Regions from separate parts of the Homo sapiens genome. Here region 2 is linked to region 1. The links come from fine-mapping of genetic effects on plasma protein levels. A gene starts in region 1. The other region holds a variant in brackets. All regions are shown on one strand. Distances are from middle to middle.

Region 1 (3,017 bases):
ATATCTAGGCCTAATCTTAGCCAGAGGAACCAGGGCCCTCAGCAAGGAACAAATACAGCCTATACTGGCACCGGTCCCTCAAGGCGTAGCACCAACCAGATTGATAAACTCACTTATCTGACCTTGTGGCCCTCGCCCAGAAACTGACTCAGTCCAAGAAGACAGCTTAGATCCCCTATGATTTCATCTCTGACCCAAACAATCAGCACTCCTGACTCACTGGCCTTTCCCCACCCATCAAACTATCCTTAAAAACTCTGAGTCCCCGTATGCTCGAATGCTTGGGGAGCCGGATTTGAGCAATAATGAAATTCCAGTCTCCTGCATAGCTGGTTCTGCATGAACTCTTTCCCTATTGCAGTTCCCCTGTCTTGATAAATTAGTTTTGTCTAGGCAGCAGGCAAGGTGAATCCATTGGGCGGTTACATATTGGGGAGGGGGGACTGTAAGGGAATGAAATCCTGAGCATTATCCTCAAAGGAGGGAGGGGCCTTATAGACTTAGGCCTATCTAGAAGCGCCTCTCTCCTCAGAGAGTAAAACCTCACTGTTTCTCAGAGGGCTGAGAGGCTTGAAGGAAGAGTTTGGGCAGAAACTCTGCTTTGAATAGAAGCAGCAGATCCAGTTGAGAGAAAGAGGTTCACAAATTCCATTTCATGGCTTTTTTTTTTTTAAAGACAGATTTTCACTCTTGTTGCCCAGGCTGGTGTTGAATGGCATGATCTCAGCTCACTGCAACCTCTGCTTCCCAGGTTCAAGCTATTCTCCTGTCTCAGCCTCCCGAGTAGCTGAGATTAAGGCGCATGCCACCATGCCCGGCTAATTTTTGTATTTTTAGTAGAGACGGGGTTTTCACCATATTGGTCAGGCTGGTCTCGAACTCCTGACCTCAGGTGATCCACCTGCCTCGGCTTCCCAAAGTGCTGGGATTACAGGCAAGAGCCACTGCGCCCGGCCTCATGTCTTTTTTATACTTAAGCACCAGGCCCATGTAATGATGCACGAATTCATTTACTCCTACTCGTGCCAGGCCCTTTCCTGGGGGCTGGAGACAAAGGGCCGACGTGGACGCTGCGTCATGGTAGCACCTGTCTCGCAAAGTGCACACCGTGCTCCACCCACAGCCTCAGCATTCTCGTTGCTAGGAATATGGACCCTCAGGCAGCACCTCAGACCTAGACCTACTGTATCAGAATCTCTGTGCTGGTCCTGAGAATGTGCATTCTCAACAGCGCCTCACATTCCCCACCCCAATTCTTCTGCAGCTAACGTTTGAGAGCGCTGGTCTGGTGCCTACTGCCTCTGCAGGCGGTTTTCAAGGCAGCCGTGTGTGCTTGCATGTGAGGCGGCAAAAACAGCGCGCTGCAGGGCCGGCGCGGTGGCTCACGCCTGTAATCCCAGCACTTTGGGAGGCGGAGGCGGGTGGATCACGAGGTCAGGATATCGAGACCATCCTGGCTAACACGGTGAAACCCCGTCTCTACTAAACAAAAATACGTGGTGGTGGGCGCCTGTAGTCCCAGCTATTCGGGAGGCTGAGGCAGGAGAATGGCTTGAACCCGGGAGGCAGAGCTTGCAGTGAGCCGGGATCGCACCACTGTACTCCAGCCTCGGCGACAAACAAACAAACAAACAAAAAAAACAGCGCGCTGCAGATGGAGCCAGCACCCGGGCTTCTCGCTCCCAGCCCCCTCCCGAAGCCCCGCCCCGCCTCCGGGTCTGGAGGAGGCTGGGAAGCCCCGCCCCTCCACGCTAGCGCCGCCCAGGCTGGCACAAAGGAGGAAGCCTAGTCCCGCCCCTGCGTGCGGCGCTTCTCCCAGGCCCCACCTTCCATCCAGTGCCCTGGACCCTCGGCTGGGTAGCGCCACCAGAGCGACCAAACGTCCCGCGCCTTCCAGGCCGCACTCCAGAGCCAAAAGAGCTCCATGGCGGCGGCGGCCAAGCCCAACAACCTTTCCCTGGTGGTGCACGGACCGGGGGACTTGCGCCTGGTAAGCTGGGAAGGAGGGTGGGAAGCATACCGATCCTGCCTCACTCTCCTCTGAGCCCAGCCATAGTCCTGGCTTCCCACTTCCAGCCTGGCGCCGGCCCCGCACCTTAAGCGCCCTGGCTGCCCAGATCCCAGCTGGTTCCCCTCGGGGTGTGGGGGCAGCAGGTAGTGGCTGTTGCGAAGGGCAGGGATCTAGTCGTGTGCCTCCCGGAACCTAGCCCCGTGGCTGGCACGTGGCCGGTGCCCAGGACGGTTGCAAACTGTTTGAATGAAGCTTTCTCTCTCCTTTGCCAGCTGCAGATTCATAGTCCAGCCTCTTGTCATTGACCTTTCCAAAGGAAATGCTAAGGCTGTCTGAATTATCGGGGCAGACCGTGCAGAGCAGAGAAAGGGGGGCCAGAGGACACTTAGAAACAGCAGAACTTGTATTTAACTCCCTTGCTTGGGACTGATAAACCTCCCTTGCAGGATTATGATGATCACAAGAGTACTCAGCACTTAGTACGTGCTCAGGAAGTGCCAGCTCCTTCTCCTTTCCTTCCAGTCTAGGCCTCCATCTCCAGAACCCCTGCTGTTCCCCTTGCCTGTGCCAGACTTGTGGATCTTGATAGCTCCCTTGTCTGTAAGGATCCTTCTCTCCCTAAGACCCTGTCTGGTTCACTTTCCAGCAGTTTTTCTTTCCAATCCCGTGCCTCTGTCCCTTTAGGAGCATTCTGTATGTGTGTCCTCTGCCTTAGACCCTGCCTTTTGCTCCCTGGCTTGTGGCACCAAAGTTTAGGAAGTGGCTGAGTCAGCAGCCTAGTCATGCCAAGCCTCCCTTGACAAAGTCCCTCTCAGATGGGCCTGGGATGGCAGTGGGTATGTGGGATGAGTGCCAGCCATCTCTGCTGCTCCCCTGTACCTCTTTTCCCTCAAAGTACATGCGTCAGTATGTAAACTGCAGTAATTCAGAAGCTTATCCAGGTTAGCAGTTCTTGACTATTTAAGAATCTGTGGTGTCCCCTCCACAGAATGCAAATAGACTGAGT
Region 2 (2,500 bases), 14 kb after region 1:
GCGAGACCACGAGCCCACCGGGAGGAACGAACAACTCCAGACGCGCCGCCTTAAGAGCTGTAACACTCACCGCGAAGGTCTGCAGCTTCACTCCTGAGCCAGCGAGACCACGAACCCACCAGAAGGAAGAAACTCCGAACACATCTGAACATCAGAAGGAACAAACTCCGGACACGTCGCCTTTAAGAACTGTAACACTCACGGCGAAGGTCTACAGCTTCACTCCTGAAGCCAGGGAGACCACGAACCCACCGGGAGGAACAAACAACTGCAGAAACGCTGGCTTAAGAGCTGTAACACTCACCGCGAAGGTCCGCAGCTTCACTGCTGAGCCAGCGAGACCACGAACCCACCAGAAGGAAGAAACTCCGAACACATCCGAACATCAGAATGAACAAACTCCGGACACGCCCCCTTTAGGAACTGTAACACTCAATGCGAGGGTCCGCAGCTTCATTGTTGAAGTCAGTGAGACCAAGAACCCACCAATTCCGGACACAAAGAGAGGAGTATATATGTGATTAAGATATGTATTTCTGACTTGAAGTGAAATATTCTGGAAAACTCACACAACTATGGTAAAGAAGAATTACTCAATTCCTTTTAGTCCTCTTGTAGTCACTCATTAAAAGATAAGAAATTCGGCCAGGCACAGTGGCTCACGCCTGTAATCCCAGCACTTTGGGAGGCAGAGGCAGGCAGATCAATTGAGGCCAGGAGTTCGAGATCAGCCTGGCCAACATGGTGAAACTCCGTCTCTACCAAAAATAAAAAAAAATTAGCCACGCAGCGTGGCATGCACCTGTAATCCCAGCTACTTGGGAGGCTGAGGTGGGAGGATGGGAGGATCACTTGAGTTCAGGAGGTTGAGGCTGCAGTGAGCCGAGATCGTGCCACTGCACTGTAGCCTGAGTGCAGTGACATCTGACATCAGGGACTGCTGATGAGTTACAAAAAATAAATAAATGAAAGAAATTCGTTTAGGAAACCTTTAATATGATTGAGATGACAAAACC[T/C]TTGGGAATGAGAAAAAAAAGAGCTGTGGAGATAAAAGTGAAAGTTCAGGATCTCAGAGAAACTAAGAAACTTTGGTAGATGAGAAATAGGATAAATGGAAGAGTATCTGAGACAGAAAAAGATTAAGCAAACAGAGGATTGTGGCCAACATCATGGCAAGGAAACATGAAAAGCAAGGTTTTGAGCAACCATGCTGTAATAACTTTCTAAAACATTGTAGTCTCCACAGTGTGCTTAGGGCAATATTTACAAACCTACAGGCTGATGTTAAAATGGTTTTGTGCTCAGGTAGCATGTCTCCTACAGAGACAGGAGGCAGGAGACAAGCCTGAGTTGCAAGGGTAATTAGAATCAGCCAGAAAAAGAATGGAAAAAGAAAGTTGGTGTGCAGGGAGAGGAATTTATTTGAACTTCTCCATCAAGCGTGTTCTGCTACAGGCACAGCACAGGCTGTGGGCACAGCACCCTCTCGTGTCTGGGAGAGTCACTGCAGCTTTGCTGTGTGGTACGAGCACAGCTGTTCAGCTCTGTTAACTTGAATAAATATTTACAGTAGTGTTCTCTCTAGTGACCCAGGGCCTATTTGGTGTGCCTGACTGTTGTTCTAAGCTTTAGTCTTACCACCTCTCCACCTCGAAATGGGGCGTTCAGGTCTGGCCAGGCTGGAGGCAAGGCTATGAATTGTATGCTGTGGAACTGTCTTTCAGTGTCTGTGAATTTGCCTACTAGTGCCTTTAGCAGGGAGGGTGGGGTGCTCTCCCATGTTTGAAATAAAGACCTTAGTCTTTAGTTTCAATTTAACCTGCAGTTTAACATTTCACGCAGTATAATGCAGCCATAAAAAAGAATGAGATCATGTCTTTTTCAGGGACATGGATGAAGCTGGAAGCCATCCTTCTCAGCAAACTAACACAGGAACAGAAAACCAAATACCACATGTTCTCACTCATAAGTGGGAGTTGAACAATGAGAATACATGGACACAGGGAGGGGACCATCACACACCAGGGCCTGTCAGGGGGTGGGGGACAAGGGGAGGGAGGGCATTAGGACAAATACCTAATGCATGTGGGGCTTCAAACCTAGGTGACAGGTTGATAGGTGCAGCAAACCAGCATGGCACATGTATACTTATGTAACAAACCTCAGGTTCTGCACATGTATCCCAGAACTTAAAGTAAAAAAAAAAAAAAATCCACGTGGTATAACAGAAGGATCACTTTACACAGCGGTCCCTGATGTCTGATGTGGGACCAGCAACAACTTTGAGGAAGGTTTTGGTGACAATCAGCTATCTTGAGGTGGCTATTTCTAGACTGATTACTTCCTTCCCTCGCATCCTCCCTTCCTTCCTTCCTTCCTTCCTTCCTTCCTTCCTTCCTTCCTTCCTTCCTTCCTTCCTTCCTTCCTTCTGATGTAGCCAGTCTAAATTATTAAAAGATAAAAAGACTCCCTTAAGCCCTTTTGCCCCCATCGGGCTGCT

Which allele goes with the higher level. Positions count from the first base shown, and alleles are read on the strand shown. Strength reflects both the effect of a copy and how common the allele is.
For the plasma level of the protein whose gene starts at base 1,836 in region 1, T is the low allele of the variant in region 2 and C is the other (moderate association).

What was found. A credible set is the group of variants that fine-mapping cannot tell apart. PIP is the posterior inclusion probability: the model's chance that the variant is causal. Protein levels are from antibody-based Olink assays in UK Biobank. Linkage for the fine-mapping came from a reference panel and not from the study's own genotypes, which makes the PIPs less certain.
Region 2: its variant is the best candidate, but not a certain one, in a credible set for the plasma level of the SORD protein (UK Biobank, PIP 0.58).

Annotation. Positions count from the first base shown.
Region 1 is chr15:45,021,360-45,024,376 of GRCh38, forward strand. SORD (sorbitol dehydrogenase) reads left to right here and starts at 1,836. Exons shown (of 9, transcript NM_003104.6): 1 at 1,836-1,990. The coding sequence starts at 1,925. RefSeq lists a silencer at 1,616-1,785 and an enhancer at 2,555-3,017.
Region 2 is chr15:45,035,767-45,038,266 of GRCh38, forward strand. The region is part of intron 1 of SORD (sorbitol dehydrogenase); the gene reads left to right. Among named protein-coding and RNA genes, the nearest start is that of SORD, 14 kb to the left of the region's middle. The variant T/C (reference allele first, on the strand shown) is at 1,017.